3 linked regions of the Homo sapiens genome follow. The protein of the gene in region 3 interacts with the protein of the main gene of each other region in a biochemical or structural test. Each region holds a gene or a part of one and is shown on either strand. Other genes may lie near its edges.

What was found. Proteins that work in one complex are often made in the same cells at the same time.
Region 1: the proteins of MAP3K5 (region 3) and TXN form a complex in vitro, tested with the Homo sapiens proteins (3 studies listed by BioGRID).
Region 2: of the proteins of MAP3K5 (region 3) and MAP2K6, one has a biochemical effect on the other in vitro, tested with the Homo sapiens proteins (8 studies listed by BioGRID, with this or other methods).

What each region holds. Positions count from the first base shown.
Region 1 is NC_000009.12:110,242,074-110,247,723, reverse strand, and holds the end of TXN (thioredoxin), read left to right. Parts: intron 1-2,880; coding exon 2,881-2,946; intron 2,947-3,504; coding exon 3,505-3,567; 3' UTR 3,568-3,914; downstream 3,915-5,650. UniProt on the Homo sapiens protein: Participates in various redox reactions through the reversible oxidation of its active center dithiol to a disulfide and catalyzes dithiol-disulfide exchange reactions.
Region 2 is NC_000017.11:69,416,481-69,425,932, reverse strand, and holds part of MAP2K6 (dual specificity mitogen-activated protein kinase kinase 6), read right to left. Parts: intron 1-9,452. UniProt on the Homo sapiens protein: Dual specificity protein kinase which acts as an essential component of the MAP kinase signal transduction pathway.
Region 3 is NC_000006.12:136,690,161-136,699,644, forward strand, and holds part of MAP3K5 (mitogen-activated protein kinase kinase kinase 5), read right to left. Parts: intron 8,523-9,484; coding exon 8,329-8,522; intron 7,228-8,328; coding exon 7,059-7,227; intron 5,898-7,058; coding exon 5,791-5,897; intron 4,151-5,790; coding exon 3,980-4,150; intron 1-3,979. UniProt on the Homo sapiens protein: Serine/threonine kinase which acts as an essential component of the MAP kinase signal transduction pathway. Plays an important role in the cascades of cellular responses evoked by changes in the environment.

The DNA of each region.
Region 1 (5,650 bases), on a different chromosome or scaffold from region 3:
TTATTATCAAGTAGTATATACTGTCCATAATTGTAGTGATATGCTTTTTTAAGTGAAAGCAAGTTTATTAAGAAAGTAAAGGAACAAAAGAATGGCTATTCCGCAGGTAAAGCAGTCTGTAGTGGTATACTTTGTATGTAATTGCAGCGCAGATTTGTTTGCACCAGCTAATGCGATGGGCTATGACATTAACCCATCACTAGGTGAGAGGAATTTTTCAACTTCATTATAATCTTATGGGACCACCACATATATGCAATCTGTTGTCGATCTAAATGTTATATGGTGCATTACTATAGGTGTGCAAAGCACTCGAGGACTTCCGTATGACAGAGCTCCTCCTTCATGTCTGCTTGGTGCACCCTGATCACCCTGAATGTATCTTTTTTTTTTTTTTTTTTGAGACAGAGTCTCACTCTGTCACCCAGGCTGGAGTGCAGTGGTACCATCTCTGCTCACTGCAACCTCCACCTCCCGGGTTCAAGCGATTCTTCTGCCTCAGCCTCCTGAGTAGCTGGGACTACAGGCAGCCGCTACCACACCAGGCTAAATTTCAACTTTTTAGTAGAGACAGCATTTTGCCATGTTGGCCAGGCTGGTCTCGAACTCCTCACCTCAAGTGATCCACCCGTCTTGGCCTCCCAAAGTGCTGGGATTAGAGGCATGAGCTACCGTGCCTGGCCTGAAAGTGTCTTTTAAAACCTTGAAGTGACCCTCTGACAAACTGAGGAACTTTAACTTTGCCTCCATAGATTGATAGAAAAGTATGAGTAGTAGCCCTTTTGAAAATGATAGACCAACCTTATTTCTCTGACAGCCAACAGGGTTATGATACTTATTTTATAAATGGTAACCTCCCTCTGACCCTTACTTGGAGTGAGTTTTCAATAGTATGCATTCAATAAACATTCACCATTTTTATTCCAGCCATTACTGTCCTTGTGCCTCTTACTGGAACCTGTACTTTCATGCTCAGCAGGTGTCCAGCATTAAAAGAAAAAGTAAAGATTACCTAGAAAGAACTCCTCAACAGTAGTGCCACCCACCATCCTAGAGGTCGTCATAGTGTTTGTAGCTGGCCTTTCTTCCCCTTGAGAATTCTCCGTTGGTTTCCGTGATTTGGTTATCAACAGTCCTGCCTGCTCGCTTGCTGTCCTGTGTAGCTTTTGCTGCTTAGGTGCTGAGTGGTTCTATATTTCTTTCCCAGTCCTCTTTTGAGTGCCTGGCTGACATTTTCAATCTCTATTGGGCTCCAAACCAAACCAGTTTCGTGGTATTGTCCTCCAAACCTTGCCCTCTTATAGCATGAACAATGTGTTGAGCATGGGGTATTATAAGAGTTCTCATTTAGCATTCCACAGTTGAGGAATGTGTGTTACTTCAATTACCTTTGAGCTGTAGAAAAATCTTTAGCTGTGGTAACAGCCACTTCTAGGAGAGGAGAAAATACGGATCAACTAGCCCAATTTGCGATGTTAGGAATTTGTCGATTTTCTTAGTAGGATGGCTTTCAAAGGTTAGAGCATCAGAGTCACCTGAAGCCCGACTTTAACTGTAATGGTTTAAGATGGGGTTGATGGGGAAACTTGTAGTACCCCTCAGGTAATTCTGATACTGCAGCAAGGTTTGAGAATTCACAAAGTCTTTTTATTTTTCCTCCCGAGATAGTCTCATTCTGTCGCCCAGGCTGGAATACAGTGGCATGATCTCAGCTCACTGCAACCTCCGCCTCCCAGGTTCAAGCAATTGTCCTGTCTCAACCTCCTGAGTAGCTGGGATGACAGATGTGTGCCACCACACCTGGCTAATTTTTGTATTTTTAGTAGAGATGGGGTTTCTCCGTGTTAGCCAGGCTAGTCTCGAACTCCTGACCTCAGGTGACCCACCGGCCTTGGCCTCACAAATCAGTTTTTAATTAAAAATAAGCAGGAGGCTGAGTGTGGTGGCTCACACCTGTAATCCTAGCACTTTGGGAGCCCGAGGAAGGTGGATCACTTGAGCTCATGAGTTTGAGACCAGCCTGGGCAACATGGAGAGACCTTGTCCCTATAAAAAAAAAAAAAAAAAAATATATATATATATATATATATATATATATATATATAGTGTGTGTGTGTGTGTATATATATACACACACACACACAAAATTAGCCAGGTGTGGTGGCGTGTGCCTGTAGTCCCAGCTACTGGGGAGGCTGAGGAGGGAGGATGGCTTGAGTCTGGGAAGTGGAGATTGCAGTGAGCTGAGACTATGCCCCTGCATTCCATCCAGCCTGGGTGACACAGCCAGACCCTGTCTCAAAAATAATAATAATCAGTAAACCCAGTGTGGGGTTATTCCTTTAGATTACTATTATTTTGTTCTTGAACAATTGATTTTTATTTTTTTAGACTTTTTAGCCTTTATATAATCATTCTGTGTACTCTGCCTTCATAATAAAACTGGAAAAATTATGAGCAAGAAATAAGAGGTACTAGTTCTGAGGAATAGTTAAGATTATCATACTGAGTCCAATTGTAGCAGAATTTTTTGTTGCTTCTTTGTATGATACTTAAAATAGTTGAAAATTTGATTGGATTAAAGAGCATATTGGATCGCTGGAGTATCTGATGCTAGTAACATTCTGAACATTCTGCCTGTTAATGTGCCCGTCAAAGGAAGTAAATATTAATAAAACTTCTTCATTGAGAATATAACCGGTTTGGCTTTTGTAATGCCATTATATTCATTATATTAATTTTCATATGCTGAAAAATGTCCTCATGCGGAAATGTGGGGTACATGACAGGGAAAAGTTTCTGGTTTTGGATTACTTCTGTCAAAGCTCAGTACTCGCAGTCTTGTATTTAATCCTCTCCCTTTGCTACTTTCCCTACCAGGATGTTGCTTCAGAGTGTGAAGTCAAATGCATGCCAACATTCCAGTTTTTTAAGAAGGGACAAAAGGTACGTACATCTGACCTTTAAAACTCTAACTGGGCAATAGGAAACCCAGTATAAGTGAATAAATCACTGGAGTGATGTTCCCTTTAAAGATTGAGGCATATCACCAAGTTCTGCTTTTAAGAATTTTTAAATATGCCAAAATTCATTGGCTTAAGTACATAATGTGACAGCTAACTGAAAATCAATCTTTCCTAGAACTAGTCCTATTTATATCATAAAGCACATAGAATTTCTTAGACTTGGGCAGTTCATTTGTTGTTAAGTATTGTGTAAAAGAAAATTTGTACTTGAGCCTTTTGACTTTTCTCTTGATATTTTTTCTTTGTTTATAACTTAAATGAACTGTATGTTATTCAGGGAAGTTTACTTTAAATAAGATTATACTTCTTTTTCCCTCCACCCCTATTCTTCCTTCATTCTATGCTGAATACATATTTATACATATGTATATATATACATATGTATATGTATATATATAAATACATATTTATACATATTTTATGTATAAAACAGTGCTACAGTGCTACGTCTAATGTCAATTCAATATTCTCTTAACAGGTGGGTGAATTTTCTGGAGCCAATAAGGAAAAGCTTGAAGCCACCATTAATGAATTAGTCTAATCATGTTTTCTGAAAATATAACCAGCCATTGGCTATTTAAAACTTGTAATTTTTTTAATTTACAAAAATATAAAATATGAAGACATAAACCCAGTTGCCATCTGCGTGACAATAAAACATTAATGCTAACACTTTTTAAAACCGTCTCATGTCTGAATAGCTTTCAAAATAAATGTGAAATGGTCATTTAATGTATTTTCCTATATTCTCAATCACTTTTTAGTAACCTTGTAGGCCACTGATTATTTTAAGATTTTAAAAATTATTATTGCTACCTTAATGTATTGCTACAAAAATCTCTTGTTGGGGGCAATGCAGGTAATAAAGTAGTATGTTGTTATTTGTTATCTTTTGACAGAGAAAATAGCATTCTCTGTTTTAGCAGGTGAATCCTCTATGCTCTCCAAAAGATCAGCATGACCAAAATTGATGTCCACTCATGAAGGACTTGTTCGTTTTGTTTGTTTGTTTTGCCACGAGGATCGGATCTTGATTCTCCTCGAAGTATCTGAGAAAGTCTAGTTGTATAGGCCAGACATAGGTTCTGTCTTGAGTGGTAAAAGTTGTGGGAAATTATTACTTATATCATTCAAAGAACATTGTTTCTTGTGTTCTAAGCACAGTAAGGGGTTGGGGGTTTGAAGAAACTTTTTGAGTTTACATAATAATGAAGAGCAGAATTATCATATGCCAGGTATCATCTTTCTATTAATTCACTTAATCTTTGTAACAATCCTATTAGATATAGACACTATAATCCCCATTTACCTGTGAGGAAACAGACAAAGGGTGGTAATTTCCCCAGCATCACAACTAGTCATTGGAGGAGCTGGGATTTGAACCAAAGAAGTCTGGTACCAGAATATGTGCCTTTAACTACTACATTGCCCTCAGTGCAACAATCTGAGTAAGCAGGAAAATGATGGGCCCTTAGTTGAGTTTCTTTCCTCATGTGAAATTAGGATGCCAAACTTAGATGATCTCTCAAAATACTAATGGAATGCCTGTTATGTGCCAGGCATCATGCTAGGCTTGGGATAAAGCTGTGACTAAGACACCCTCATCCTCATACAGCTTACATTCTAGAAGCAGAGACAAACAGGTGAATAATAGACTGGTATATTCTACAAGGCAAAACCAAAAACTGGGCGCAGTAATGAGAAGAATAGGGGAACCAGCTGTGCATCAGGTGGTTGGACCTGGGTTCTTTGAGGTGACTGTAAACAGAGCTGTTGGATAAAAAGTACTCCAACCTGCTGAGAGCCAGGGAATCAGCTTTCAAGCAGAGAGAATGACAGACACAAAGGCTTGAGTCAAGAAAGAGCTTGGTACCTTGTAGAATCATCAGAGGAGCATGAAATAAAGCTCGATAGAGTGGCAGGGCCAGGTCAGCCAGGGCGTTATTTGTTCTAGAACGGATGAGAAACCATCGAAGGGTAAGTCAGGGTACATGCTTTGTTAACAAGTTATTTTGGCACCTGTATAGAAAACGGAAACTAAAAAGTGGAAAACCAGTTAGGCTTTTTTGTTTGTTTTTTGAGATGGAGTTTCGCTCTTGTCAGCCAGGCTGGAGTGCAATGGCGCAATCTCAGCTCACTGCAACCTCCGCCTCCCAGGGTCAAGCCATTCTCCTGCCTCAGCCTCCTGAGTAGCTGGGATTACAGGCACCCGCCACCATGCCCAGCTAATTTTTGTATTTTTAGTAGAGATGAGGTTTCACCATGTTGACCAAGATGGTCTCGAACTCCTGACCTCAGGTGATCCACCCACCTCAGCCTCCCAAAGTGCTGGGATTACAGGCGTGAGCCACTGTGCCCGGCCCCAGTTAGGCTTTTGCAATTACCTAGATCAGAGATAATGATAGCTGTGACTAGGAGGACAGTGGGGAAGTGACAGAGATGGAACAAAGCCTAAGGGCCTGTGAGAGGAAGACCCAGGAGTGAATCTCAGGTTTCTGGCAGAAGCCCTGGGTGTCGGGGTATGATGTGATGTCATGAGTGAGGTGAGGATGGGAGGGAGAAAGGGGTGGTGGTGAGGGAGTCAGTCTCTGGCCCTTCTGAGTTGGGTGCTTCTGAGGTGCACA
Region 2 (9,452 bases), on a different chromosome or scaffold from region 3:
AAACTGTGAAGACTGCCTCGCAAGGTTTACAAATATCACAAAAAGGTTATCTCTACATTTACTTCAAACTAATTTCCATACTCTGAACTATTCTGTTCCCACTGATTCTTCAGATTCTAGCCCTACGCTTACAGCTATCTCCTCTCATCCCATTTGAAATTGGAGGAGGGAGAATAAAGGAAGGGAATAAATAACTTGTCACTCAACAACCAGACCATCTATTTCCGCAGCTTCGACATGGGATCATGAAAAACAACTGAGGCATAGGTATAGCTGTTCTGCTTTGGCTGGAGAGAAAGCCGAGAAAGAATTCATTGGTTTAGGCCGGGTGCGGTGGCTCATGCTTGTAAGCCCAGAACTTTGGGAGGCCGAGGCGGGCGAATCATGAGGTCAGGAGTTCAACACCAGCCTGGCCAACACAGTGAAGCCCCATCTCTACTAAAAATACAAAAAGTAGCTGGGTGTGGTGGTGGGCGCCTGTAATCCCAGCTACTTGGGAGGCTGAGGCAGGAGAATCACTTGAACCCGGGAGGCGGAGGTTGCAGTGAGCTGAGATAGCACCACTGTACTCCAGCCTGGGTGACAGAGCTATACGCCATCTCAGAAAAAAACAAAAAAAAAAAGAATTCATTGCTTTAAAAGGAAATTCATTTCCATCCCCATCTACCTCCTCTGCCACAAAAACAGGCAATTCCAGTTTCCTCCACTCTGTCCAGTACAAGAGGAAAACACTGGAGATGTGGGTTCATTCATCATTTCAAGGAAATTGTTACATTTACATAGAAACAACCAGGAAGAAAAAAAGTCACTAAGCCAAAAAGGGGCTGCAAAATCCCCACACTTAGGTATGCTGCCACACTGGCCACGTTCTTGTTAGTTTTAATACAATTTAACTTAGATGTGTAAGGAAACACACAAGGTTTGAGTCGGCTTAGTTTCTGTGTGATACAACCTACAGAACAGCAAATGGAAGCAATATTTGTTACCTACATTTTAACATAACATTCCTGTATATCCAGACCAGTAACTATCAGTGGGCCAATTGTAATCAGCCTCCTTCAACCAATGGGCAGTTTCTATTTGGAACTCAACCTTAAGAGTCAAAATGAGTCAGACTCTGTACTCTGTGATCAAAAGACATATAAAGGGACATGTCAAAAAGAACCTATAAATAGCTAGACACAGGTCAGCCCTTCTTAATTACCATACTTGGCCCTGGTATGCCCAAATCTATCCAAATTCCTACAGAATACACTCGTTTTTCATTCTTCGACCATGTCTTTGGTGTAATGGATTTCATACCTTTATTTTGGAGTGACGTCTCAAGTGGAGTCGCCAGGAGCTCAGATTCTGAGGTCAGACAGACCTTGGCTAAAACCTCTGCTCTGCCACTATCGGTTTGGTAACTGAGGCAAGTTCTTAACCTCTCCGGCCTCAGTTTGCTGATCTACAAAATGGGATATCACCTCACTGATCCATAGTGAGAGTAAATGATAGAATTCACATTCATCACTAAGCACAGTATCTGGAGCACAGAAAGAATCACAGCAGTGATACCATCTGGGATGGTAGAAATTAGCACTTCTTTGTACGTGACTTAAATTTACATCATTCTGGATGTGGTGAACAAATCTGGGCTCATTCTACCAAAGCTCCTCTGTCTACATGTAGCTTTCACCTCCCTTCATTTTCAGACCCTCTATCAAAACCTTCTCTCCTAAATATACCCAATATCCACGATGTAAGCGACTCTGTGAGCACAAAGAATATTCGTCCTCAAAAGAAAATTGCCCACCCGGGGTTAGGGGGTTAATGTAAGAAAACAGCTCTAAACTTTGCAGGAGATGATAACTGGAAACCTCTCTGGTCCCATGCAGGGAGGCTTTCACGTTGACACAAAAGAAATGATGGAACCTCTGAGCTGGGTCATGATGATAACCAACAAGCCAGGCAATGGTGGTAGCAGGAGAGTTATTTTTGATTTCTTACGTCGGTGCAAAAGTAATTGTGGTTTTTGCCATGAAAAGTGATGATAAAAAACAATATTACTTTTGCACCAACCTAATACTTTCTAAAGAAATGTGGGATCAATAAGGGGAGGATGAAGAGTCTCAGGGAAGAATTAATAAGCAGCTTCTCATCGAAGGGAAGAAAAAAAGGAAAGAAATATAAAGCAAACAGGAAGAACACAACTAAGGGGAAAAGACCCCAGGACGGGCAAAAGGAGACGGGTAACTTAGTTCAGAGGAAATGAGCAATGACCTACAATTCTTATAACTAGGAGAGACACCACTCAGACGTTTCCTGTGGGCTGGGCCCAAGAGGTCTCTGGCTGAGCAGCAGAGCAGTAGTTATCCAGGTTAACAACTTCCAATTAAAGCCAGAGAGGAATGTTTCTGGGAGCTCTGTCATGAAGAGACCCCAGTATTCGATGGAATAAAGTCATAAAGGAAAGGGTCAACAAACATTTTCTGCAAGGGACCAGATAGCAAATATTTTTGGCTTTGTGGGACATAGGGGCTCTGGCGCAACTACTCAACTCGACAGCTGTCGAGCAAAGAGCAGCCATGGAAAACATATAAATGAATGACCATAGCTGTGTTCCAATAAAACTTTGTTTGTCGATGCTGAATTTGAATTTCGTATCATTTTCATGTGTCATGAAACATTGATTTTGATTTTTTTTCAATCATTTAAAAATGGGAAAACCATCTTCGCTCACGGGCTATACTTAAAAACAGCTGAGGCTTGGCCGGGCACGATGGCTCACGCCTGTAATCCCAGCACTTTGGGAGGCCGAGGAGGACGGATCACAAGGTCAAGAGATCGAGATCATCCTGGCCAACATGGTGAAACCCCGTCTCTACTAAAAATACAAAAAATTAGCTGGGCGTGGTGGTGCACACCTGTAATCCCAGCTACTCGGGAGGCTGAGGCAGGAGGATCGCTTGAACCCAGGAGGTGGCGATTGCAGTGAGCCAAGATCGCGCCATTGCACTCCCAGTTGGGCAACAAGAGCGCAACTCCATCTCAAACAAACAAACAAACAAACAAACAAAAACAACAGCTGAAGCTAGATTTGGCCCAGGAGCTGCAGTTTGCTGCACAGGCCCACCAGTCAGACATCCATCCTGCCTCTGCCACTGACTCGCTATCCAGCCATGGGCAAATTGGTTAACAACAATTGATTTCCTCACTCGTAAATTAAGGATAATAACACCAACTTTGTCCATAGTGTTTATGGGACATCCTAAAGCATACTATATGAAAAGTAACTGGCTTAGGGTAAGTGATGATGACAACAGCCTTGGGAGTGGTACAGGGAGGGGTTGTGATCAGCAGCTCCACCTGGGGCTAATGGTCTGTCCAAAGAAGACTAATCTCAAGAATCTGACTTAAGAAGGGATGTACAGACCAGAAAGTAAAACAGATGACAGGGATGCTGCAAATGCTTATTTAATGCTTCAACTCAGACTGGAGTTGACTAAATTACGATGATTTGGCCAGGCGTGGTGGCTCATACCTGTAATCCCAGTGCTTCGGGAGGCCGAGGTGGGTGGATCACCTGAGGTCAGGAGTTTGAGACCAGCCTGGCCAACATGATGAATCCCTGTCTCTACTAAAAATACAAAAATTAGCCTGGTATGGTGGCAGGCACCTGTAATCCCAGCTACTCGGGAGGCTGAGGCAGGAGAATTGCTTGAAACTGGGAATCAGAGGTTTCAGTGAGCTGAGGTTGCACCACTGCACTCCAGTCTGGGTGACAGAGCAAGACCCCATCTCAAAAAAAAAAAAAAAAAAAAAAAAATTACGATGATTTCTGATAGACTTCATTGTATGGGGATTATAACCTGAATATCCTCCTCAACTCAGAAAGAGGGAGATTATGGACTACATACTGAACCGCATGGGCCAACTCAGGAAGACCATCAAAGGAGACAGAGTGGGGTACAAGCCAGGGAGGAAGGGGCTGGGCAGAGGCAGTGGAGGTGGTCAAGGAGGAAGTGAAGAATCATTTCACTGGGAGGTGATCCTTGCGAAGTTCCCTGTTTTGTTAGAGGGCAGCCAGCTGTTAAAAACACTGTCTCTGGGCCGGGCGTGGTGGCTCACACCTGTAATCCCAGCACTTTGGGAGGCCGAGGCGGGTGGATCACGAGGTCAGGAGATCGAGACCATCCTGGCTAACACGGTGAAATCCCATCTCTACTAAAAATACAAAAAAAATTAGCCGGGCATGGTGGCGGCAGGCACCTGTAATCCCAGCTACTCCGGAGGCTGAGGCAGGAGAATGGCGTGAACCCAGGAGGCGGAGGTTGCAGTAAGCTGAGATCGCACCACTGCACTCCAGCCTGGGTGACAGAGCGAGACTCTGTCTCAAAAAAAAAAAACAAAAAACAACAACAAAAAAAGGATTGTCTCTGACAATCCTTCAGAAGCCTCATAGACTTAAAAACCAGCTCCTAAAACCAGCACAGGATGCAGAAATCACTTCAATTCTATTGGATGGGATTCTTCGGACAATTCATCTTCTCATATTTTTTAAAAAGAAAGTTAGCAGAGAATTGTGCAACCTTTAAATCTGTTCAGAAGGCTTAGGTAGGAGAAATGACACTTCGCCAGCCATTATAAGTTGCTTTTCATGCTGTTCTTGCAACTTCCAAATAATTAAGCAAATACATAATGGGAATATCAGTGCAAACAAAGAAGAAGCACAAGAAGAAAATTGCATTGTAATTTAATTACCCGAAATCTTTCATAAAACTTAGGAGCAAATGAGAGCTTATCCCTACTGATGAAAAATACTTTCATTGTCAGACATTTTTTGAGCACCTATTATTTATAAGGACAATGCTATAAGAGTCAGAGATGTAAAGATATATAAGAAAAGGTTTAGTTACCCAGCAAGGGCTTTCAAACAAGACAGTCCATAAAAGGCAAACAACCATTACAGTGGTTAAAACTTGCAGCTGTACTATGTAGGCACTGGGAATCAAAATGAGAGCATTTGCAAAATATCCTTTGGCAGAGAACTGGTAAGAAACCCCACCACCATGATTCACATGTCACCATTTCTTGGACACAGAAAAATAACCCCTGCTCATTATACCATCAGCTCCCCCTTGCCAGACTGCTCCCAACAAAAACAAGCAAAGCTAAAAATGTGAAATATACTAAAGATTCTGAAGAAAAAAAAATTTTATAAATGTGGATTATTAGTGTTCACGTGTGGTTTAGTGAAAAGAACTTACGGACAGAGAATCTGTAGATCTGACTTCTCCCTGTGACTCCACTCTACTGTCTTCAGGAAAGTCACTCACTTCCAAGGCCTCAGTTAGCTTATGTGTAAAATGAAGTGATTGGACTATAAAACTTTCATAGCTCTAAATTCTATCACTTAATATCAGGATGCATAAATAGGCGCATTTATTAAGGCTATGTTAAGGATATGTTAAATCTGATTGACTTATATGACTTGTGAGGTCATTAAAATTGATTCTTAACAAGAATCTTAAAGATTCTAGACTTAATTATTTTAACAAATGTAGGAAATTTAAGTCAACCACCTTTTGTGATTAGGCATTGCACAGGAAGCTAAAAAAAATTAGATTAAATTTCTCTGCAACAATGCATATAACACAACCAGGTGCTATGTAAGAATTATTTATAAACCTAAAGAAAAACTAATTTTGCCTGAAAAGATAACTGAAAATGCAGGAATGCCCAAAAGTAAGCTATTTCTCAGACTGGAATTTAATCAGATCACTACATTTTTCTTATTATTTTCATATAGGTCTGGATAGCTATAGACTATATAAATAAAATGAGTTTATAAAATATGTGATAGCAGCTTAAGACATTAGGTTAAAATTAAAATTAGAACTCATCAAGGAATTAAATTGTTTAGATACACAGAACCCAACTATCAATCCAGGATTACCTAACCTCTACAATATTGCTATTTTCTGGCTAACTTTGAAAATAATTTGATCCCCAAATTAATTAATTTTTTTTTTTTTTTGAGATGAAGTCTGGCTCTGTCACCCAGGCTACAGTGCAGTGGCACAATCTCTGCTCATTGCAACCTCCACCTCCCAGGTTCAAGCGATTCTCCCAAGAAGCTGGGATTACAGGTGTGCACCACCACGCCTGACTAATTTTTGTATTTTTAGTGGAGGCAGGGTTTCACTATGTTGGCCAGGCTGGTCTTGAACTCCTGACCTCAGGTGATCCACTTGCCTCGGCCTCCCAAAGTGGGGTTACAGGCATGAGCCACCATGCCTGGCCACCCAAATTAAAATTTTAAGGATATATTTCATGAGAAAAAAAGAAATTTGGGCACATGAAACACAAATGTCAAAAAAACTGAAAAATGCAACTGCCTTATCACTAATAATATTAGAGTAGAATATTAATAGCTTTCATCAAACTGCCAAAGATTTTTTCAAATTGTTATACCCAGGATGAAGAAAGGTACCATCTTCCTGAAGAGCAATTTACTTGGCAATATGTACCATTATGCTTGAAAGGACAGAATGGGCACGTCTAAATATTATTGGTAGAAATGAGAATTAGTGTTACCTCTATGAAGGGCAATTTAGCAATATATCTATACATGCCCTTTGACCCAGGACTTCCACCTCTAGGAATCATCCTAAAGAAATAATTGGGCAAATGTATAAAGATGTATGTTCCAGGTATTCCTTACAGTACTGTGTATAGCTGTGCAAAAAAATGGAAACTGTTTGAAAACTCAATATGACATTAAGTAAATGGCTACATTCTTACAAATTAAAATTCACGGTTGTTAAAAAATAGGTAACCTTATGTGTACTACTACAGAAAGATATCCAAGATATATGGTAGAGTATAAAAAAGCAAGTTACAAAATACAATATATAGTGTGTAAAATAACATGTACATACAAATATGGAGATAGTACCCAAAAAACTAACAGTAATTAGCTCTGGGTGGTATGACTTTGAGTGAGTTTTATATTCTTATTGTGAATTTATCTTTGGTTTGAATTTTTTGATTAGCATATGTCATTTTTTTTTTGCAATAATAAAAAGCTATTTTCAGAAGGAAGAAAAGAGAATGGAGAGTGAAGAAGAACTGGACATTCAAAGCCTGTGGTTTTGCTCCCTGGAATTTAATCTAAGGGCATAGTATGCATGATAATGTAGGAACTGGTATGATCATCACGGAAATATTCACAATAGTGAAAGTTAATAAACATTAAGATTCTATTTAAATAAATACAATGGAAGAGGATACTATGAATGTAGAAATATATAAACTTGGGAATATTTTGCCATATATTGGTAAGTGAAACAAGAGGGAACGAAATAGACTTAGTTTTACACACATTTTGGATGCTTCATACACATAGATAGAAAAAAAAAGTCCAAGAGAATAAATGCCAAAGTGTAGACTGCAGTAACTAGTCATTCTTATTTTTCCTTTTCTATGAAATGTTTCTATAATGAACAAGGGTTATTTATGAAATTTCTTTTAAGTTTTAAAAATATTCCTTGTAGATCTTTCAGATTTTAAAATACTGGGGAGTCATTAAAGTAACACTAATCTGAAAAACAAAGACAAGAGAATCTCAACTCTTTTCTCCAACATTAAATTTACCAACCAGAGACCCCTGAAGCCCCCTACAGTTAACAGGCCGCATGCTCTAAAGAACTGAATGCAATGCTAATACAAAGCAAGCTCAGGAAACCCAAGCTACCTATTCTGATTTTGTGTCCTGAGATGTACGGGGTTATAAAACATACTGGCTCAGATTACAGGCTAAGCATGACAAGTCCGTCTGGTACAACCTAACAAAGGAATTTATAGAGAACAAGAAATTTACACATTTCATTTCCCAAGGGTGGAATGAATTACAGAAGCAAAGAACCCCAGTAGAGTTAAGACCTTTCCTACCACTCTGCTATATGCTTCTGAATTGTGCCTCATAGGCATTTCTTACATGATTTACTTATTGCTCTCTAAAACTAAAATAAACTAATATTTTTTAAAGGTGAATAGGAGGAGAAGTGAGAAAAGTGTATTTTAACAGGGTCAAACTTTTTGTGTATTTTCAGGTGAACTGGGGGATGCCAGATCTCCCTACCTCCCTCTTTCTCTCCCTCCCTCCGGAGATCATTATGGCTGATAACAATAGTTTTTCTCTCCCGGGTAGTGTAGATGACACATTTTTCCTGTAGCTTGTCTTCCTGTAGTGTGCAGGAATTCCTGCACTTTCTGGGTGCCCTTCCTGTTAACTTACATTTCAGATTTCCTCAAAAGGCATTCTACTGCTTTAATATTTGAAAAATGTCAACTCAACCCCAGACAGCTAATATAAACAAGCTGAAAAGCATACCACCTAAAGTTACAACTGTGGAAAACAAAATTTCTTTTTAAGAAATTCTTTCTCGGAATCTCACTGTTGGTAAGGCTGTAGAGCAGTAACCCAGTCCTTCCAGCTTCCAGAGAGTCTGTAATTCCTTTGCCTCTGCTGTGCCTTAAATTAGAGGTCTGTTAAACCGAATTATAGTGATCTAGAAAGTTCGTAAAGGTCCTTGAATTGAACATATTGTTAAATTCTTCAATACTATGAGATTGTATCCACTTTTCACTTTTCCTCCCATTTCTTGGGTTAGAATATTAAAAAAGAAGTTTGGTACTGCAAAAAGTATTTTGGCCATTTGAGAATAGCGTAGCTGAATAAGGCCAATTCCACATTTAAAGTCCAGGCCAAGGCGGCTGGCTCTTTTGCCATTTCTAAAATGATCACCCACTTCTTTCTACCAATAATTTTCCTTTCGGACAAGAACCCCATGTTCATTCCAGATGTACTTTCCAAGCAGAATCCAATTAAGAAAACTCATCTGGGTAAATGGGAATTGATTTGAAGGACCACCAGTACCTGATCCATTGTAAACACATCCATAGGGAAGAGTGCAGTGCTAATATCTCCTTTGGCTTCTCAACTCAAAAACTGGCTCTACTAAGAGGGAGCCACGTTCATAGTGAGCCCAAAAATATGCAAAAAGGAGCCTGATTTAGTTTAGACCCTAAAGTCCAAAGATAAGATCACAGTAAACACCACCCTCTTCATAAACCTTCCTGACTATCCCCCAAATAGATAAATCACTTCCATTTTTAAACTCCAATAGCACCATTTCTCTTCAATACCTGTCCTATTATCTTGTATTATAATGATTTCCTTACATTCTTGTTTTCACCAACCCGAAGGAAAAACTTCATTTTAAATATTTTTGTGTGTCCCTAAATCATGTGCACACATACACACACAATACATACATATACATGCATATATATACACACATACATATGTATATACATGCATATCACAATATATTACACATATATTAAACTGAATTGAATGAATGAGCGAATGTTTACCAAATACAAAGTAACTAAATGCCATCTCT
Region 3 (9,484 bases):
CTACTGGTAACCATTATACTGAATTTGGAGTTTATGATGCCCATCCGTGCATCTATACTTATACTAAATCTCTATGACTGTTTTTAAACATTCTATAAATGATACTGTACTCTGTATCCTTCTGCCACTTGCTTACTTTGCTCAACTTTTTTAAAGTTTTTTTTTATGTTAAAACTTTAATGTAGAGAAATGTCTAAGATTTACTCTAGGGTATATAAATCTGCTGGACCTAGGGGAGGCAAGTTCTCAACTTTCCTCAATAATGCCAAAATCTTTTAAGTGCGTATAGAAATTTATGGCACAACCAGCAGGCATTAGGACTCACATTTCTCTAACATCCTGGCTAACAATTGATATTGTCAGATTTATAAATTTTGGTTAATCTGAATAGTGTAAAGTAGTATAAAAATAATCTTTTTATAAGTTTCAAAAATATGTTTATTGGCCATTTGTGATTCCATTTTTGTGAATAACCTGTTCATATCCTATGCATTTTTTAATCTCTTTTTCTTAAAGATATTTTGAGGAGTTATTTATATATACTGAATACATATCCTATATTGGTTACATGCATTGTTCCCTGTGATTTCTTTGTTGATGGTATCTTTTATATTTATTCATATATTTATCATTTCCAGTGCTATATGCTTTTTCCTATAGATCCATTTGGTTTTATTTCCCTTCAGCCTAAAGACTTTAACATTTCTTGTAGTGAAGTTCTGCTGGCAACAAATTATCTCAGTTTTGATGTATCTAGAATTGTCTTTACTTCACCCCCATATTTTAAAGACATTATCAGTGGATATAGAGTTCTTGCTTGATTGGGTTTTTTTCTTTCAGCACTTTAATGTTATTCCATTATCTTTTGGCTTCCTTCAGCACTCACTCTTTCCCCTGATGTATCTTCTTTCTTAGGCTGCATTTATGACCTTTTCTTGTATTTCTGTTTTTCACCAATTTTACTATGATGTGCCAAGAGATAATTTTCTTTGATATTTATGCTCCTTGGGTTTTGCTGAGCTTCCTAGATCTGTGAGCTGTTTTTTATTTGTTTGTTTGTTTGAACAGATTTGGATAATATTTGACCACTAATTCTTCAACTATTATCCCTGCAACAGTATATCTCTCCTCTCCTGGGACTCTAATTAAAAGTATCTGGACCACTCAAGGCTGGGCACGGTGGCTCACACCTGTAATCCCAGCACTTCAGGAGGCCGAGGCAGGTGGATCACTTGAGGTCAGGAGTTTGACACCAGCCTGGACAACATGGGGAAACCCGGACTCAACTAAAAATACAAAAAGTAGCTGGGCATGGTGGGGCATGCCTGTAATCCCAGCTACTTGGGAGGTTGAGGCACGAGAATCGCTTGAACCCCGGAGGCAGAGGTTGCAGTGAGGTGAGATTGCACCACTGAACTCCAGCCTGGGCAACAGAGCAAGATTCGTCTCAAAAAAAAAAAAAAAAGTATTTAGACCACTAAATGCCACAGGTCATTGGAATTATTAATGACTTCATCTCTTTCTTTCCTCTGCTTCAATTTCAATGATTTCTAATAATCTGTTTTGAAGTTTATTGCTCTTTTATCGTATTGTGTCCTATCTGCTGTTAATCTGATTTGATGACATTTCAACTTCAGATATTGTACTTTTCAGTTCTAGAACTCCCATTTGGTTATTTCCAGTTTCCAAATATCTCCTATAATTCCTCATATTTTCACCCATTATGTTCATCTTTTCAAGTAGATTCTTTGATATAATTATCATTGTTATTTTTATGTCCTTGTCTGGTAATTCTAAACTCTGTTTTATCTATGGGTTTATTTCTATGAATAATTTTTTTCTTAATTATGAATCACACTTTCCTATTTCTTCACCACTTTAGTAGTTGAGAGTTTTTCTTTCTTTTTTTTCTTTTTTTCTTTTTTTTAATAAGACAAGGTATTTTTATATTGTCCAGGCAGGTCTTGAACTCCTAGGCTCAAGCCATCTTCGCACCTCAGCCTCCTGAGTAGCTGGAACAATGGGAACATGCCACCACACCCAGGTTGCTTAGTAATTTTTATGGTGTATTAGACATTTTGGATGATAAGCTGTAGAGAGTTTGGATTTGTTCTCCTCCTCTTAAGAGTATGTAGTTTTTTAATAAAAGGTAAATAAATTATTGGTGGTTCACCTTGTTCACACAAAGGCTTATCCCACTCAATGTCCAGGTCCTCCGGCAGCCTCAAACTCACTCTCAGGCCAATAAGACTGTGATTTCCTGCTAGAGTTCTATCTGTCCTGCTCCCTGCAGACCAGGGAATGTCTTGAGGGAAAAGCCATTTAAATGTGGAGTTTATCCTATGCGGTGCCCTTCATCCAAGGATGAAAACCTTTCCAGTTTCTAGCTACTTTTAATCACTCTTCAGTGCTTTCCAACTTTTTTCCAACATTTATAATTGTTATCAACAGGAAGATAAGCACAATAGAATCTACTCTGCTGTTTCCAAAAGCTACTACTTTGATGAGCAGAAGCCAATTTTCATGTAGACCATTTTCCCAGTCTTATCTTTTATGGTATATGGCGTTTTTAAGCCTTGTTTAAGAAATCTTTGCCCCAGTCAGGGCAACATGGTGAAACCCTCTCTCTACCAAAAATACAAACAATTAGCCAGGCGTGGTGGCACACACCTGTGGTCCCAGCTACTCAGGAGGCTGAGGTGGGAAGATCACTTGAGCTCAGGAGGTGGAGGTGGCAGTGGGCCGAGATTGCACCACTACACTACAGCCTGAGTGACGGAGCAAGACCTTGTCTCAAAAAAAAAAGAAAGAAATCTTTGCTTATCCAATAGTCATACATAATTTGTACACTTTATTCTAAAAATATTTTTCTAAAGTATTTTTTCATATTTTGGTATTTAACTCACTTAGATTTCATTTTTTTGTGCATGGCTTAAAATGGGGATAGAACTTTATTTTATTTTTCCAAGCAGATAAAGAAATTTTCCCAGTATCATTACTACAGATTCCATCCTTTCCTTTACAGCTCATGAAGCTGATTCTGCCATAAATCTAGACTCATGTATATCTTAGTCTGTTCCAGGCTGTCTCTTGTATTCCAGTGCTTTGTTTGTCTATGCCTATAGCCATACTGCAATATCTTAATCATTACAGCTTTATAATGAGTCTTGTTAACTGGTGGAGCAAGTCCTTCCACCTTGTGCTTTTCCAGAATTGCTTTGCCTATTCTCAGTCCTTTATTCTTTCAAATAAATTTTGGAATTGGTTTGTCAAATCACATGAAAACCCCTGCTGGGGGGAATTAAAATCTTTAAAATATCAAGCCTTCTCATCTACAAACTCGGTATATTTTTTCCTTTCATTCAGGTCTTTTAAACTGTCTTTATATAAATTTTTCTACAAAATTATATTTTATTATTTATATTACTTATTTAAAATATCTTTTTAAAATTATATTTCTTAAATTATCTTTTCATCTATTTATCCCAATTTACTATACTATGTTAAATGAATTTCATCAAATTATTTACTAAAGTTATAAACTCTAAGATTGGCCCGGTGGCTCACGCCTGTAATCCCAGCACTTGAGGAGGCAGAGGCAGTTGGATCACCTGAGGTCAGGAATTCAAGACCAGCCTGGCCAACAGGGCAAAACCCGTCTCTCCTAAAAATGTAAAAATTAGTGGGCGTGGTGGCGGGCACCTGTAATCCCAGTTACTGGAGAGGCTGAGGCAGGAGAATCGCTTGAACCTGGGAGGCAGAGGTTGCAGTGAGCTAAGATCACATGACTGCACTCCAGCCTGGGCAACAGAACAAGACTCCATCTCAAAAATAAAATAAAATAAAATAAAATCTAAGGTTTAGTTCATAATACACAATCTTATGGATTATAATAATACTTTAACACTCTCATTTGCAAATACTTTTTTATGCCATGGATTTACTAAGTAAGTAGCTCATTTATATACTATTTACTTACCAAGAAGCTCCATGGTCTCTGCTTTCAGTGTCCGTGAAATTAGAGTCCAAAAACATATCTTTGTAGATTCGACCAACTAGGCAATACATATCTGAAGCAACTTGTCCTTCGCTTTGCACCATGGGAATCATAATATCAAGAGCTTTTGCTCTGTCACCAGGGAGATTTCTCCTAAGGCAGAAAACATTGTTGTTTCAATATACATTACAGAAGCAATATAGATCAATTCTTTTTTAAAAACCCTATTTAACATGTTGATTCATATTAGAGAAATTTGCCAGGACAGAAACAATTAGATTTTGAGAGTCCTCTGTAAACCTCTGTCCTAAGCCTAATTTTTTGTTTTATCCCATTGTATGTCTACTAGGTCTAACAAGGATTTCTTTTGAGTTTCTGTGTTAATAATGGTGATGGATTTGTACTTACTCATCCACAATCCTTCCAATTTCCCTGCAGCCTATATGCAGGTTCAAGTTGGTGAAACGAGATTAGAGTTGTAGTCTGTGTCTTTGAATAGGGTAGAGTAAATAAAGCCAAGTAGGGACAAAACCCTGACCTTAGGTTTCAATGGCTTTTGCTCCAAAACTTAGCAAACTCATTCACAGATGATACCAAAAATCAAATCAAACCCAAGAACTGCTTGATTTCTACGTGTGACTAACTGATTATCTAAGGAAGTTGCTTTATGTAGCATGCTTTAAAATAGTATGTGTAGACAGTTCACAAAACCAGATAAAAATTCTATAAGAGTTATCATTCCTTAGACCTTGAAAATATTATGCTAAGTGAAAGAGGTCAGTCACAAGGGACCACATACTGTATGATTCCATTTATATGAAATGTCCAGAATAGGCAAATCTGTAAAGACTGAAAGTAGATTCGTGGTTGCCTAGAGTTGGGGGATTTGGGAGGGAAATGGAAGGGGGGCTGCTAATGGGTACAGGGTTTCCTTGTGGAGTGATGAAAATGTTTTAAAATTTATTGTTTTGATGAAATATATTTAGTTTGTTTGTTTGGAGACAGAGTCTTGCTCTGTTGCCCAGGCTGGAGGGCAGTGGCATGATCTTGGCTCACTGCAACTTCTGCCTCCCAGGTTCAAGCGATTCTCCTGCCTCAGCCTCCCGAGTAGCCGGAACTACAGGTGCACACTGCCACACCTGGCTAATTTTTTTGTATTTTAGTAGAGACGGGGTTTCACCGTGTTGCCCAGGCTGCTCTCGAACTCCTGAGCTCAGGCAATCCGACCACCTTGGCCTCTCAAAGTGCTAGGATTGCAGGAGTGAGCCACCACGCCCAGCCTGTGAAATATGTTTCAATAAAGCTATTATAAAAAAGGTATCATTTCTATTCTCAATTACTACTTCAAATCTTCTGTCCAAGAAATTCCTTTTTATCCTTGGTAATAACTATCTAACACTATGTTCACCTAGACATAACCATCCTTACTCTAGTGAAAACTTTTGTGTGAATGACCATCTGGTGTTGAGTGTATTTGCTTAAAGATAACATCATATTCATGTAACTTTTACAATTCTAAAAAATATGAATAGCAAATACAAACTTTGACAGAGCAGAAAACCTGTAAGAATTTAAATATACCAACAGTGTGCGACTTTTTTTTTACTGAAAAATAAATCAGAAAAAAATGAGAATGCATGCTTCCTATATTTCATGGGGCTGAAGCAGATATGCTAATATTACATTTTAATAGGGACTTCTTGCAATGCTGCAGTGAACACATTCTCTGTAAAGAATTGCAGGTTACACAATAATATGTTAACGCATTCTGGAAGGGAACTTTTTCTTCTTACCTATTCAGTGCAAATGCATAATGAAACTTCACATGGTGATGGGAGGCCAAATCAAAGGTTGGCAGTTTTTCTAAAGTCTCTACCAGCTTCACAATAGAATCATAGTCCTTTCAAATTAGATGAGAATAGCACAGAATTAAACCATTAGGAGAAAATTCTCACAATAACGTGTCTTTTGACAACCAGATATCTGAATTCAAGAAACACATTAAAAAGACACTAGAATCCACAGAACACTTTGAAGAACCTAGAATAAACAGTTTTTGTTGTTTTTCTTCTAAAAGGTTTAGATCGTATATATAAAAACATTAGAAACATACAGTTACCATGTTGAACAAAAACTAAAAAAGCAAAAGAAACAAAAACACCAAGCATGATAGTGCTCTACTGTCTAAATATGGGTGATTTATTTCCCCATAGAGCCAGATTCCCGGTATGCAGTGTTCTAACAATTTCAGGGAAATAAAAATGTCAAGGACATGAGGCAATGGGTTGAACTTCTGTTACAAGTAGCAACACAGTTTCATGTCACATGAGTAAGCACTCTAGCCACAGGATCCTATGTGCCACAGCCCTCCATGGATGTGAGTCTGTCTTGAGCACATGAAGCCTTTACACAGACCTGAAAGGCTAGGAATGGAAAGGAGAAACCAGATGTCATTTAAATTTTACTATTAAAACCTAAGAGCAAATCCCTAACTTGGAGAGGATTTTATTCCACTTACCCTATTTTTAAAATTTTAAGACATGTCAATAAAAATGATATAACCTGTTAGTGTGTTTTACATTACATATTTTTAAAGTTATTTCTGTAGGTAATCAATTACATATTTTTTCCTTCAGGCGAGTTAGATTCAGCACTATCAATTTCAAGCAATACAATTTCAAGGGATAAAAGGTATGTCCAGAAAGCTCTAAAAATGTCTGCTATTTGCCAAAACAAAGCTTTCACTGACAGGTGTGCCTGAGGCTAACAGTAGAATAGACTGTGTCCACAGGTTCGCTGTGCCAGCAGATTTTTCTTTTTGTTCTTTTGGAGGAAAAAGTCAGGCCTTTACCATACAAGTCTTTCACAATCACTGATGGTTAACTCACATGAGTCTTTTTCATTCATCATAAAATTATAGGATGGAAAGCTTAAGAGAGTCAATAAAAAATTACGTGTAGTAACATGAACTGCTTACCAGCAAACTGAAATTTGAGGTTAATACTCCCTTATCCCTCCAACATGCTACACAACAAAGATTTCACTTTAAACATCTTCTCACCTGGATATCTCTGTAGGAAAGTAACAGATTTATGACAATATCTGCTGTCAAGACTTCGATATTATCTACTCGCTGCCGAATTCTTGCCAACTCAGCTGCCAATTCTTTACCAGTGTATAAATTACGAGCTTTCCTGATGTCATTGAGTATAGATTCCCGGAAGTACTGGCTGGTAAAAACACACACATTTCAAAGAGTTTGACATTAGAAACAATTTCAATGAAAAGCAATAATTTTAATAAAGACATGAATGATATTGCAGCATTAGCTATAAAGCATTTGTAGTTTTCAGTTCATTCAGATGCCTAAATAAATATCTTACATATCTGGCATTATTAAGAAATTTAGAAGCCAATGTATTTCTTTTATTACTCTGCCTTCAGAAAGAATTAAAGGTAAAGGTACTCCATATTAATAAATTTTCCTGCAAAAAACCACTTAAAATGCCAAAACTTTGTTTTCCATTTTACTGTTTCCAGTACAAATTGTTCTAAATAAATTAGATGTACCTATGATTTTTTGTTTGTTTGTTGTTTTTGTTTTTGAGACAGAGTCTCACTCTGTTGCCCAGACTAGAGTATACTGGCATGATCTTGGCTCACTGCAACCTCCATCTCCTGGGTTCAAGCAATTCTCTTGCCTCAGCCTTGTGAGTAGCTGGGATTACAGGTGTGCACCACCACACCTGGCTAATTTTTGTATTTTTGGTAGAGACAGGGTTTCGGCATGTTGGCCAGGCTGGTCTCGAACTCCTGATCTCAAGTGATCTGCCCACCTCGGCCTCCCAAAATGCTGGGATTACAGGCATGAGCCACGGCACTGGCCGTGATGTACCTATGATTTGAACATAATATAACCTTAACTTCCTGACTCAGCCTATCATTTATTAACATAAATAATTGTTCTTCACTGAAAGAACAATTAGAGTTAAGAGTTAATTAAAGTTGAATTGTTCTTGCCCTTACACTAGAAGTCCCTGGACATTTATCCTGGTATTGTTTCTGTACTTGCTTTGTATATATTTTTAGTTCTACCATCACTATAAAGCGGTTAGTAGACTTTTTAATTTTTTGCTGATTTCAAGTTGCTGTTCTGTGAATAAAATGTATTATGTGGCATCTATTTTATCTACTTGGAGGATAATAAACATTTTCCCCCTAGTTCTTAGCTGTATACTGATATCTCAGGAGCACCTGATATCATGCACAAATAAAGATGTAGAATAACACTTTATTGTCATCACCAAATGGCATTATTAATTAAACTTTACCTAGAACTTGCTTGTGCCACCTTCAAAAGTTGAATAAAACGATCCACAAGAGGTAAGCAGATGGGTCCAAGAAGCAGCTCGAAGTTCGGTTGCATGAGCTCTGTCAACCCCTTCATGAAGCTGCTGTCACAGCAGTAGACTTTGTTATGTGGAGTTATCATGTAAGGAACAAAGGTGTAGTTCCCAGTGCACATCTGCGGAGAGAGGAGGCATCGGCAAGTGGGGAGCTGGCCTGGAGACACGGCACAGATGGAATCCCACGTCTTACTCATTTTAAATAATTCCAAATGCAAAGGGAAATAGAAAAGCCTCATTATTTATTTATGACCTACGACAATGAAAATTTCCCCAATTCCTTTCACTGCATACTTCAAATAATTAGGACTTACAGATGATACCAAAAAAAGAGTGGAACAGTTTCTATCCATCAATTTAATATTTATTCACCATCTTTCAAGGCTAGGGCACTAAGTTATTGCTGTTGGAAAAAGTAGTTTAAAGCATGGCCTTCAGCTTTCAGGGAACTTATAATTTAGTCACAGGGCGCAGCATACACATATGAAAATGCTACAAGCTCACATTTGAAGGGCTTCCTACATGTAAGGTGATGCCGCAAGTAGATCCCGCTCAAATCCACCCCCCGGGAGGCTGCTCTCTCTCTGTCTCCCCACTACTAAAACTACAGGCCCAGAAGTTACCCTTGATGCTTCCATTCCCTTCCCCTTCCACATCCTATCGAAGTCCCATCTGTCCTGCCTCCAAAATATAATGTCATATTTGTCCATTTCCCTCCATCTTCTCGGCCAACACTTTAGTCCATGCACCAATGGACCTGGCCTGAGCCACTGCCATCAGCTTTAACTGGTCCCCCTGCTTCCACTCTTGTCCTCTAATTTACTCTCCACTCTGCCATCAGAGTGATCTTTCAACACTGTCCCTCAGATCACTTCCCACAGCTGCTTAAAGCCCCATCTCTTGCTCTTGGGAGAAAGAAGAAATTGCAATGCAACGTACAAGGGCCTGACTACGCAGATCCTGCCCCTCTCTAACCTCAGCCCTGCCACTCTCCCCTCGCCCACTACAGCCTGGGCTCACTGACCTTCTCTTGGTTCCTGGATGATGCCCAAGCGAGGATAAACTGGTGCAAACAAAAGCA